3 separate regions of the Homo sapiens genome follow, and regions 1 and 3 are each linked to region 2. Evidence: fine-mapped expression QTL. A gene starts in region 2. Each other region holds a variant in brackets. All regions are shown on one strand. Distances are from middle to middle.

Region 1 (4,109 bases), 41 kb before region 2:
GCCTCCCAAGTAGCTATGACCACAAGGCATGCACCACTATGCCTGGCTAATTTTTGTATCTTTTGTAGAGACAGGGTTTCACCCTATTGCCCAGACTGGTCTTGAACTCTTGAGTGCAAAGGATCTGCCCACCTCGGCCTCCCAGAGTGCTGGGATTACAGGTGTGAGCCACCATGCTTGGCCATCTCAGCCATCTTCTTTGCATAAGACATTGGTGCCCTTTGCAGACCTGGGTGGTGAGAGGGAGTCCATCCTTGTTGAGCTTGAATCTCACTTGCTGTCAAGTGATGCCCTTTGCTGGTGAGATGTGGTGGTACCGGGTTCAGATGGAATACGTGGACTGGGCTCTGCCATACGCTTCCTTATGCCCTCCAGATTGATGCCCTGGGCCAGTGAGGAATCCTCTGAGAACCTGTTTCCAGTAAAATTGGGACAGTCATAGTTGCCACCTAATGGGTTTGTTGTGAGGAAGTGAAGTTACCTCCATAAAGCATTTGATGGGGGTGCGATGACTCATGCCTGTAATCCCAGCACTTTGGGGAAGCCAAGGCAGGAGGATCACTGGAGCCCAGGAGTTCAAGACCAACCTGGCCAACATAGGAGACTGTGTCTACAAAAAATAAAAAATTAGCCGTGCGTCGTGCTGCGTGCCTATGGTCCCAGCTCCTTGGGAGGCTGTGGTGGGAAGATTGCTTGAGCCTGGGAGGTCAGGCCTGTAGTAAGCTACCATCATGCCACTGAACTCCACCCTGAGCAGTAGAAGGAGATTCTGTCTTTAAAAAAAAAAAAAGGCACTTGATGGTATCTAGTCAAATGTTTGCAGCCAGGTGTGGTGGCACACTCCTGTAATCCCAGCACTTTCGGAGGCCAAGGTGGGCTAATTGCTGAAGCTCAGGAGTTCAAGACCAGCCTGGGCAACATAGCAAGACCCTGTCTCTGCACAAAATCCAGAAATTAGCTGGGCATGGTGGCATACACCTGTGGTCCCAGCTACTCCATAGGCTGAAGTGGGAGGACCGCTTGAGTCCGGGAGGTTGAGGCTACGGTGAGCCATGATCATGCCACTGCACTCCAGCCTGGGTGACAAAGTGAGACCTTGTCACCAAAAAAAAAAAAAAAAAATTGTGGTGGAGTCTGTGCTAGGCTTGGCATACTGCAGTAAACAAATGGGACAGGCTTATAGCTCCTCAGGCAAGATAGACAAGTTAACGTACCATGACAGGAGGTGGGAAATAGTCATGAAAGAAAAGGAAGTAGAGTAAGAATGACATGGGAAGAAATTTAGACGTCGTGGTCAGAGGTGGCAACATTTCCTCTGAGACTGGGTGACTAGAAGGAGGCCACCATGTAAACCTCAGGGGAGGGATGTTCCAGGTAAAGAGAGCAGCCAGTTCAAAGGCCCTGGGGCAAAATTGGTGTGTCAGACCTGGGGGCCAGTGTGGTTGGGAACTCAGGAGGGCGGTGGAATGTGGGCAGGGATGAGGTGGGGGAAATCTGCCAGGGCCACGTCATGCAGGCCCATGTCAGGGTGCTGGTGGCAGTGAAAAGAATCACTCATTTATCGAGTGTTTACTACGTGCCGGATGCTGTCCTGAGCACTTTGCATGTATGTGCACATGTTCATTATATAGCAGCTCTCTGTAAGCACATCTTACAGAAGAGTAGAAGAGTGTACTTGGCCACTTGAGTGGTTCCTGGCTGCTTCTGTGATTGTTAGGTCTTGAGAGATTATGGACCCGAGGCATTCTGGGTACCCCATCAATTGGCTGATGGTCTTCTATTTGGGCTGCGCTTCTTCTAAAAAGGGGAGCTCAAAGGTCTTTTTTTCCCCCACTGCAGAGCTAAAAAAGTCCCTGTACGCCATCTTCTCCCAGTTTGGCCAGATCCTGGATATCCTGGTATCACGGAGCCTGAAGATGAGGGGCCAGGCCTTTGTCATCTTCAAGGAGGTCAGCAGCGCCACCAACGCCCTGCGCTCCATGCAGGGTTTCCCTTTCTATGACAAACCTATGGTGAGCATTGCGGGTACGGAGGCTGTGTGGGTGTGTAAAATGTTATAGGAGACTGGGCGGGCCTGGATTAGAGGAGGGGATATTACGGTTCATTTGCCAAGGTGAGGCTGGACCAGGCTCCCACTGCACCTTGCCTCATTTAAAAATCTTTTCTTTGGCCGAGGGC[G/A]GTGGCTCACGTCTGTAATCCTGGCACTTTGGGAGGCCGAGGCAGGTGGATTACCTGAGCTCAGGAGTTTGCAGCCAGCCTGGGCAACACCGTGAAACCCTGTCTCTACTAAAATACAAAAATTAGCTCGGTGTGGCAGCATGCACCTGTAGTCCCAGCTACTCCTGTGGCTGAGGAAGGAGAATTGCTTGAACCCGGGAGGCAGAGATTGCAGTGAGCCGAGATCCTGCCACTGCACTCCAGCCTAGGCAACAGAGTGAGACTCTGTCTCAGAAAAAATAAATAAATAAATAAATAAATAAATAAATTATTTTGAGACAGAATCTTCCTCTGTTGCCCAGGCTGGAGTGCAGTGGTGCAATCTTGGCTCACTGCAACCTCCACCTCCCGGGTTCAAGTGATTCTCCTGCCTCAGCCTCCTGAGTAGCTGGGATTACAGGCACGTGCCACCATACCTGGCTGATTTTTTTATTTTTAGTAGAGACGGGGTTTCGCCATGTTGCCCAGGCTGGTCTCAAACTCCTGAGCTCAAGTGATCTGCCTGCCTCAGCCTCCCAAAGTGCTAGGATTACAGGCGTGAGCTACTGTGCCACACTAAGAATCTTTAACATACCTTCCCCTACTGAATAAGCACCATGAAAGAGGGGTTTTTGTCTATTTTGTTCATTGCTTTATTCCCAGAGCCTTGAATGGCGCCTGGCATCTGGCAGGTTCTCCTTAAACAGCTAAGTGAGTGAGATTGAACCTGGAAGACTGAAGTATTCTTGTGTGACAGGAAATCCCCCTGCACTGCACTCCTCTCCTAGCATTGTCTCCTCGGTCCTTTGGCCTGATGTTTATTGCTGTTCCAGCTTCCCTTAAAAATACCAACAGCCTTTCTACTGAACACTTGCTTACTGTGTGTCAGGTACTGTTCCAAGCACTTTAACTCATTTAGTCCTCACAACAGTCCTTTGAAGTGGGAAGTATCATAATCCCCATTTTTCAGACAAGGAAGTTAAGGCCAAGATATTTCTGTGTTTCTCAGTAAGCTCCTGATAAGGTCTGAATTTTTTTTTGTTTGTTTGTTTTTTGTTTTTTGTTTTTTGCTCTGTTGCCTGGGCTGGAGTGCAGTGGTGCCATCTCAGCTGACTGCAACCTTCGCCTCCTGGGTTCAAGCGATTCTTCTGCCTCAGCCTCTTGAGTAGCTGGGACTACAGGTGCGCACCACCATGCCCAGCTAATTTTTGTATTTTTGGTAGAAATGGGGTTTCCTGGCCAGGCGCAGTGGCTCATGCCTGTAATCCCAGCACTTTCGGAGGCCGAGGTGGGTGGATCACCTGAGGTCAGGAGTTCGAGACCAGCCTGGCCAACATGGTGAAACCCTGTCTCTACTAAAAGCACAAAAATTAGCCAGGCGTGGTGGTGGGCGCCTGTAATCCCAGCTAGTAGGGAGGCTGAGGCAGAATTGCTTGAACCCGGGAGGCAGAGGTTGCAGTCAGCTGAGATCTCATCACTGCACTCTAGCCTGGGTGACAGAGCAAGACAATGTCTCAAAAAAAAAAAAAAAAGAAAAGAAACAAAGAAATGGGGTTTTGCCATGTTGGCCAAGCTGGTCTCCACCTCCTGGCCTCAAGTGATCTGCTCGCTTTAGCCTCCCAAAGGGCTGGGATTACAGGCATGAGCCGCAGCACCTGGCCCCTGATAAAGGTCCAATTTTGAATCTTGGCAATTGGGCTCTGAATCCACGCTCTTAACCCGTTCTGCTCTCTGTTTGGTAGCGTATCCAGTATGCCAAGACCGACTCAGATATCATTGCCAAGATGAAAGGCACCTTCGTGGAGCGGGACCGCAAGCGGGAGAAGAGGAAGCCCAAGAGCCAGGAGACCCCGGCCACCAAGAAGGCTGTGCAAGGCGGGGGAGCCACCCCCGTGGTGGGGGCTGTCCAGGGG
Region 2 (4,109 bases):
GGAGGCCTGTCCAGCACCCACCCTACCCCCATAAAGCATTGTTTACACCTGTGTCTTGGCCTCCATTATTGTGAGATGGCAGGGAGATGGAAGAGGTCCCTGATGGAAGAATCATGTGTCATGGTGTTTGGGGGCCTTGTTTCTGTTTTTTTGTTGTTGTTGTTGAGATGGAGTTTCCTTCTTGTTGCCCAGGCTGGAGTGCAGTGGCGTGATCTTGGCTCACCACAACCTCCACCTCCCGGGTTCAAGCTATTCTCCTGCCTCAGCCTCCCGAGTAGCTGGGATTACAGGCATGTGCCACCACACTTGGCTAATTTTGTATTTTTAGTAGAGATGGAGTTTCTCCATGTTGGTCAAGGTTGGTCTCGAACTCCCAACCTCAGGTGATTCGCCCGCGCTGGCCTCCCAAAGTGCTGGAATTACAGGTGTGAGCCACTGGGCCTGGCCTTGGGGGCCTTGTTTCCTGATTGGACGTGGTGTGGGGTATACCAAGCATGATGACTCAGGTGCCTGTTGCGGAGGGAGGGAATTTGTTACTGTGTGGACAGTTTGTGACAATCTGTGTTCTAAGCTCACGTGTGTAAACACGCTGATGTCCCTGTGTTTGTGACATGTGTACATGTTTCCAGTACCTGCATATGGGATGATGTCTATAGGATATAATGTGTGCTGGTTGTGTGTGATGCTGACAGCCGTAACTGCTCTGTGGCCTTGGTCATTGTATTGGTGAGGCTGGTATTGTTTGGGACATCAAGGCCAGGGGATGGGAATTTGGACCTATAGGTGGGCCTCCGGTGTGTGCATGTCTGATGCCTGAGAGTCAGAGGCAGTGACTCACTACTGCGTGTGTGCCTGTGCATGTGTACCCCGAGGTCTGTGTGTGTTTTGGTGTGAATTTGGCTCCTTTTAAACACCCATGTGTGGCCAGGCGTGGTGGCTCATGCCTGTAATCCCAGCACTTCGGGAGGCCAAGGCAGATGGATCACTTGAGCCCAGGAGTTGGAGACTATAGCCTGGGCAACACAGAGAGACCCTATCTACAAAAATAAAAAACAGAAAAAGTTAGCCAGGTGTCGTGGTACACACCTGAAGTCCCAGCTATTCCGGAGGCTGAGGTGTGAGGATCACTTTAGTTGGGAGGTTGGGCCTGCAGTGAACTATGATCATGCCACAGCACTTCAGCCTGGGCAAAAGGGTAAGACCCCATCTCAAAAACAAAACTAAACTAGAAACACCCTTGTGTGGCCATGAACCCTGTGTGTGCCCTGAGGACTGCGGGCTTTTGTGCAATCCTCACGCATGTGTGGATACCAGTATGCATGCCCTTGTGCTCACGCGAACCGCCCTACGCCCTCAGGTGGCCTGCAGGGGACTGGTGCAGCCCCGAGGACACTCCCAGTTGCTCGTCGCCCTCCCATCTCCACGTCGGCCTTCACCGACCCGGCGGGAGCCTTGAGTCCCAGCTCTCCAGAGCAATGGTGGAGCGGGCAGGGCATTCAAAATGACCTTATCTCCTTAGTCTCCTAAAGTGTTCCCAGCTGGCCATGCAAATGTCTTCTCTGTGTAGCGTTCCGTGGATTTTTTTTTGTTTCATTTTTTAATTTTGTGTAAAGATAAGGTCTCACTCCGTTGCCCAGACTTTCCCTGGTTCTTTATTCTGATTCCCACAATCGTCCCGAGGGGGCAGGCCGGAGCGGGTCTTGAAAATACACATTTGCACATCCCTTCTAGTCCGCGTTCCCTTTTCTCAAGGGCAACCCGCACTTTTTTGCCTCCGTTATAAAAGATACTTATGTAAATTACTGACGTGCGAATTTACATACATTTCTCAACTAACTGCGTAGCCATTTCTCCGTCTCTCACCTCCGTTCCTGGACGGCGAGAAGGAGGAGGAGCTGACCATGTAAATGAAGTCACGCGCACCGCGCTGCCGAACTCGGTGCCCCGCGCTGGGCGGGGGGCGGGTAGGCCTGTCCATGTAAATCACATCATTTGCGTGCCCCGCCCCGCCGACGCCACTTGATTCCAACATGCAAGAAACGCCCCCTCCCAGACCCGGCCCCTCACACTGCGTTCCCCCTCCCGCGCAAAGGGGGCGGGGCGGAGGATGCAAATGAACCTCGTGTAGGCCACGGACCGCTGTTTCCTTTCTCCTTGGTAGGGGGGTTGTCCCGAACTTCCTCGCCCCGCTCCGCCCCGCCCCGCGCGGCTCGGGCCTGCGCAGGCGCCGTCCCCTCCGCGGGGCGCGGTCACGTGCCCACCGGGCGAGGCGGGGCGGGGCGTCGCGCGCGGTGGGGGCGGGGTATGGCGCGCTGTGCGGCGCAGGGCGGCTGGCACAAACGGCGGCGCCGGGGCCGGAGGAAAAAGCTCGGTGAGGAGGTCGCGGGGCGAGAAGGGAGCGGGAGGAGACTAAGCCGGAGCCGGGGCGCCGGCGCGAACCGGGCGGGGTGTGGGGGCGCGCGCCGGGGCCTGCCGGGGCGACCCCGGGAAGGGGGATGTGGGTGCGGCGCGGGGGAGGGGACGCGCGCCGGTTACGTTGGGTGCCGGCCGTTGTGGGGGTTGGGGTGGGGGCGGGGAGCGCGCGCCGGGCGGAGGCCGAGTGGAGGGGGAGGGGAGGGGGTCCGAGCGGCCCTTAGGCCCTGCCCCTGTCGCCTACTGCGCTCAGAAGGGGCCTCAGGGCCTGCCCCGGGTTGGGGGCGTTGGGGTGCCCTGGATGGGGGCACCTTTATCTCTCGTCCTGTCTCCGGGTGCGTGCACCCTCCTCCGTCCTTTCCTCTGTCGCCGCGGACCCTCTCCCCGAGGGCCCCTCCCGTCGGTCAGTCTCGGGACCTCCCTTCCGTCTGGGCGTGTGTCCGCCCCCGGCCGGCTTCCTCCCGTCGGGCTCGGGTCGACCCCACCGTCCCGCTCCGCCCCGGGTCCTCCCTCCCAGCTTCCCTCCGGTCTATTTTTCTGTCTCTGGGCCCCTCGTTCTCTTTGTTTTTGGACTCCCCAGTTTCCTCTGTCTTTTGACCCCCCCGCCCCCACCCTGACTCTCCCTGGAACCCCCACGTTTCTCGTTGTCTTTCTGGAACGCCGAGGCAGGTCCCTCCTATTTTCCAAACCCCCTCCTTTCCCACTCCTCCACACCACCCTTTTCTACTCCAGCCCTCCTTCTTCTGTCTTTGGTTACCGCGTCCCACAACCTGCACCACAGTCCTCTGTCTTAGGGTCATCTACCCAGCCCCTGGCCTCCAGCCTCTCCCTATCACTGCCTCTTATCTGTCAGCGGACTCCCGCACCTCCAGATTCTCAGGGTCCTCTCCCCGACTTGGCCTCAGGTTTTGGGGGGCCTCTATAGTCAAGTCTGTCCTGGTCGTCTTCCCCACTCCTGCCCATACCATCCCGGCTTTCCCCTGCCTGCCTGTCTCTAGTTTCTCTCACATCCCTTTTTTTTTTTCCTTTCTCTAGCCACCCTGAAGGGTCCCTTCCCAAGCCCTTAGGGACCGCAGAGGACTTGGGGACCAGCAAGCAACCCCCAGGGCACGAGAAGAGCTCTTGCTGTCTGCCCTGCCTCACCCTGCCCCACGCCAGGCCCGGTGGCCCCCAGCTGCATCAAGTGGAGGCGGAGGAGGAGGCGGAGGAGGGTGGCACCATGGGCCCGGGCGGTGCCCTCCATGCCCGGGGGATGAAGACACTGCTGCCATGGACAGCCCGTGCCAGCCGCAGCCCCTAAGTCAGGCTCTCCCTCAGTTACCAGGGTCTTCGTCAGAGCCCTTGGAGCCTGAGCCTGGCCGGGCCAGGATGGGAGTGGAGAGTTACCTGCCCTGTCCCCTGCTCCCCTCCTACCACTGTCCAGGAGTGCCTAGTGAGGCCTCGGCAGGGAGTGGGACCCCCAGAGCCACAGCCACCTCTACCACTGCCAGCCCTCTTCGGGACGGTTTTGGCGGGCAGGATGGTGGTGAGCTGCGGCCGCTGCAGAGTGAAGGCGCTGCAGCGCTGGTCACCAAGGGGTGCCAGCGATTGGCAGCCCAGGGCGCACGGCCTGAGGCCCCCAAACGGAAATGGGCCGAGGATGGTGGGGATGCCCCTTCACCCAGCAAACGGCCCTGGGCCAGGCAAGAGAACCAGGA
Region 3 (4,109 bases), 43 kb after region 2:
TTATGACTGAATAGTACTCCTTTTTGTGAATTTTCTTTATCCATTCTATCCACATTTTCTTTATCCATTCATCTGTTGATGGACAGTCAGGTTATTTCCAAATCTTGGCTACTGTGAATAGTGCTGCAGTAAACATAGGAGTGTGGATATATCTTGGATATACTGATGTCTTTTCTTTGGATATATACGGTGGGATTGCTGGATCATAGGGTCATTTTATTTTTAGTGTTTTGGGGAACCTCCAAACTGTTTTCCATAGTGGTTGTACTGATTTAGATTTCCACCAAGAGATATGTATGAGAGTTCCCTTTTCTCCACATTCTTGCCAGCATTTGTTATTGCCTGTCTTTTGGATAAAAGCCATTTGAACTAGGGTGAGATGACATCTTATTGTAGTTTTGATTTGCATTTCTCTGATGATAATTATGTTGAGCACTGATATGGTTTGGATCTGTGTCCCCACCAAATCTCATGTTGAATTGTAGCTCCCAATGTTGGAGGTGGGGTCTGCTGGAGGGTGGTTGGATTTCTCATGAATAGTTTCATACTGTCCTCTTGGTGCTGTTCTTGTGATAGTGAGTTCTCATGAGATTTGGTTATTCAAAAGCGTACAGCACCTCCCCGCTCACTCTCTCTTGCTCCTGCTTCCGCCGTCTAAGATGCCTTACTCCCTCTTTGCTTTCTGCCATGATTGGCAGTTTCTTGAGGCCTCTCCAGAAGCAGAAGCTGCTGTGCTTCCTGTACAGCCTACAAAACTGTAAGCCAATTAAAACTCTTTTCTTTATAAATTACCCAGTCTCAGGTATTTCTTTATAGCAGCGTGAGAATGGATTAATACAAGTCTCAGGTATTTCTTTTCTTTTTTTTGAGATGGAGTCTCACTGTGTCGCCCAGGCTGGAGTGCAGTGGTGTGATCTTGGCTCACTACAACCTCTGCCTCCCAGGTTCAAGCAATTCTCATGCCTCAGCCTCCCAGGTAGCTGGGACTACAGGTGCCCAGCACCACGCCTGACTAACTTTTTTTGTATTTTTAGTAGAGACAGGGTTTCACCATGTTGGCCAGGCTGGTTTGGAACTCCTGACCTCAGGCGATCTGCCCGCTTTGGCCTCCCACAGTGCTGGGGTTACAGGCATGAGCCACCGTGCCATCAGGTATTTCTTTATAGCAGTGTGAGAACGGATTAATACTAGCACCTTTTCATATACCTGTTTGCCATTTGTATGTCTTCTTTTGAGAAATGTCTATTCAAATCTTTTATTAATTTTAAATTGGATTATTAGATTTTTTTCCTATTGAGTTGTTTGAGCTCCTTATATTTTTTTGTGAATTATTCTTTGTCAGATGGAAAACTTGCAGATATTTATTTTCTTCCACTCTGTAGGTTGTCTCTTCACTTTGTTGATTGTTTCCTTTGCTGTGTAGAAGCGTTTTAACTTGATGTGATCCCATTTGTCCATTTTTGCTTTGGTTCCCTGTGCTTGTTGGGTATTACTCGAGAAATCTTTACCCAGTGCAATGTCCTGGAGAGCTTTCTCAGTGTTTTCTTTAGTAGTTTCATGTTTGAGGTCATAGATTTAAGTCTATGATCCATTTTGATTTGATTTTTGCATATGTCAAAAAATAGGGGTCTAGTTTCATTCTTCTGCATATAGATGTCCAGTTTTCTTGGCATTGTTTATTGAAGTGACTGTTATTTCCCCAGTGTATGAATGTTCTTGGCACCTTTGTTGAAATTGAATTCACTGTAGATGTATGAAGTTGTTTTTGGGCTCTTTATTATGTTCCATCGGTCTACGTAACTTGTTATGCTAGTACCTTGTTGTTTTGGTTACTATAGCTCTATAATACGATTTGAAGTCAGATAATGGGATTCCTCCAATTTTGTTCTTTTTGCTTAGGATAGCTTTGGCTACTCTAGATCTTTTGTGGTTCTGTTTAAATTTTAGAATTGTTTTTTCTGTTTCTGTGAAGAATGTCATTGGTATTTTGATAGGAATTGCATTGAATCTGTAGATTGCTTTGAGTAGTATGAACATTTTAACAATATTGCTTCTTCTAATCTCACTGTGTCGCCCAGGCTGGAGTGCAGTGGCTCCATCTCAGCTCGCTGCAACCTCTGCCTTATGGGTTCAGGCAATTCTCCCACCTCAGCCTCCCAAGTGGCTGCAACTGCAGGCGCATGCCACCGTGCCCGGCTAATTTTTGTATTTTTAGTAGAGATGGGGTTTCACCATGTTGGCCAGGCTGGTCTCGAATTCCTGACCTCAAGTGATCTGCCCACCTCGGCCTCCCATAGTGCTATAATTAACAGTATGAGCCATCAAGCCCTGCCGTATTTCATTGTATGAACATATTACAGTTCATTTATCCATTCACTTGTTGAAGAACATCTTGGTTGCTTACAAGATTTGGCAATTATGAATAAAGCTGCTATAAACATCTGTGCAGAGGTTTTTGTGTTGCTATATGTTTTCAACTCATTTGGGTTAATACCGAAGA[A/G]CATGATTGCTGTAGCACATGGTAAGAATATGTTTAGCTTTGCAAGAAACCGCCAAATTGTCTTTCAAAGTAGCTGTGTCATTTTGCATTCCCACCATCAATGAATGACAGTTCCTGTTGAGCCACCTCCTTGTCAGCATTTGATGTTGTCAGCTTTGGATTTTAGCCATTCTAATAGGTGAGTAGTGGTACATCATTATTGTTTCAATTTGAAATGGCTACTGACATATGATATGGAGCATCTTTCCTTATGCTTATTTGCTATGTGTATATTTTCTTTGGTGAGGTGTCTGCTCAGATCGTTTGCCCATTCTTTAATTGGGTTGTTTTCTATTGAGTTTTAACAGTTCTTTGTGTATTTTGAATGTAAGTCCCTTATCAGGTATGTCCCCTGCAAATATGTTCTCCTAGTCTGTAGCTTGTATTGTCATTCTCTTGACAATTCTTTTGCAGAGCAGAAGCTTCTAATTTTAATGACACAGAACTTATCAATTGCTTCTTTCAAGGATTGTGCTTTTGGTGTTGTATCTAATAAGCCATCACCAAACTTAAGGTCATCTAGATTTTCTCCTACATTATCTTCTAGAAGTTTTGTACTCACTATTCATTTAGGTCTACAATAAACTTGGAGTTAATTTTCGTGAAAGCCGTAAGGGAGCTTCTAAGGGGGACACACACTAACTTCTTTGAGAGTGGGCAGTGATTGTGAAACTCTCAGCTGGGTCTTACAACAGACCCCAGATCCATCAGGAGAGCCCAGCCTTCAGAACCCATAGTGGAATATGTTTCATGCATACACGGAGGAGAATATGCAGTCATATGCTCACATGCATGTCTGAACATGATCACACACATGAATATGGCTATGTCCTGATCCAGAGTTCTCTCATTCTCTGTAAGTGATTCTTTCCTTCAACTTCTTCATTAAGGGATATATTGACAGAATGTCATTAAAATTAAAAACTTCTGCTCTGCAAAAAATTGTTAATGGACTGACTCTGTATGTCCATTCATGTCTCGTTGTGTCCCTGGACTGACTCTGAATGGGCTACAGTGGCCTTATCTGGTAGCAAGCACAGATTACACCCGGGTATTCAAAGCATGTTGAGTAGGTGAGAGTGTGGGCATGTGTGCAGTGAAGGCAGGACAGCCACCCGCCAGGTCTCTGGAAAACTCCCCAGGACAGGGATGTTCAGGCCATGTGATGCTATACTAAGCTGTTTTACGTGAGGAATAGGTGCTTTTTAAGAATCTGTCTAGAAGGCTATGGGCACAGATCTGTGTTCAAAGATTTTCTGGGCACTTATGTTTTGTGAGACATCAGAGACAACTTTCTAAGCCTCAGTTTTGTCACGTGTAAAATGGGCATGAACGCCCTTCGCAGAGGTTTGTGGCAATTAGGTGAGCGTGCAATGGTTTTTGAACAAAGGTGACACGGGGGTACGTGCTCAGGAAATAAGAGCTGCTATTATTACTACTCTTCATAGCATAATGTAAGGGTTTCCTTCCTCTCATCCCAGCTCGGAAGCACCTTATCAAGGTGAACTGAGCCGCTTCTGTTTCTTCTCTTCCCTCTAGCCACCACGCCCCTTCCTTTCCGCCATCCTGC

Evidence for each region. PIP is the estimated chance that this variant, and not a neighbour inherited with it, causes the effect.
Region 1: its variant is the best candidate, but not a certain one, in a credible set for the expression of EGLN2 in whole blood (TOPMed, PIP 0.77).
Region 3: its variant is the best candidate, but not a certain one, in a credible set for the expression of EGLN2 in whole blood (TOPMed, PIP 0.80).

The regions. Positions count from the first base shown.
Region 1 is chr19:40,755,493-40,759,601 of GRCh38, forward strand. It overlaps SNRPA (small nuclear ribonucleoprotein polypeptide A), which reads left to right. Exons shown (of 6, transcript NM_004596.5): 2 at 1,840-2,012; 3 at 3,939-4,109. Among named protein-coding and RNA genes, the nearest start is that of SNRPA, 6.3 kb to the left of the region's middle. The variant G/A (reference allele first, on the strand shown) is at 2,179.
Region 2 is chr19:40,796,892-40,801,000 of GRCh38, forward strand. It overlaps EGLN2 (egl-9 family hypoxia inducible factor 2), which reads left to right and starts at 2,300. Exons shown (of 6, transcript NM_080732.4): 1 at 2,300-2,371; 2 at 3,448-4,109. The coding sequence starts at 3,682. It overlaps RAB4B (RAB4B, member RAS oncogene family), which reads left to right. Exons shown (of 8, transcript NM_016154.5): 8 at 1-51. It overlaps MIA-RAB4B (MIA-RAB4B readthrough (NMD candidate)), which reads left to right. Exons shown (of 10, transcript NR_037775.1): 10 at 1-53. It overlaps RAB4B-EGLN2 (RAB4B-EGLN2 readthrough (NMD candidate)), which reads left to right. Exons shown (of 12, transcript NR_037791.1): 8 at 3,448-4,109. RefSeq lists silencers at 2,078-2,437, 2,588-2,637 and an enhancer at 4,061-4,109.
Region 3 is chr19:40,839,593-40,843,701 of GRCh38, forward strand. CYP2A6 (cytochrome P450 family 2 subfamily A member 6) reads right to left here. Exons shown (of 9, transcript NM_000762.6): 9 at 3,949-4,109. Among named protein-coding and RNA genes, the nearest start is that of CYP2A6, 8.8 kb to the right of the region's middle. RefSeq lists an enhancer at 4,032-4,109. The variant A/G (reference allele first, on the strand shown) is at 2,501.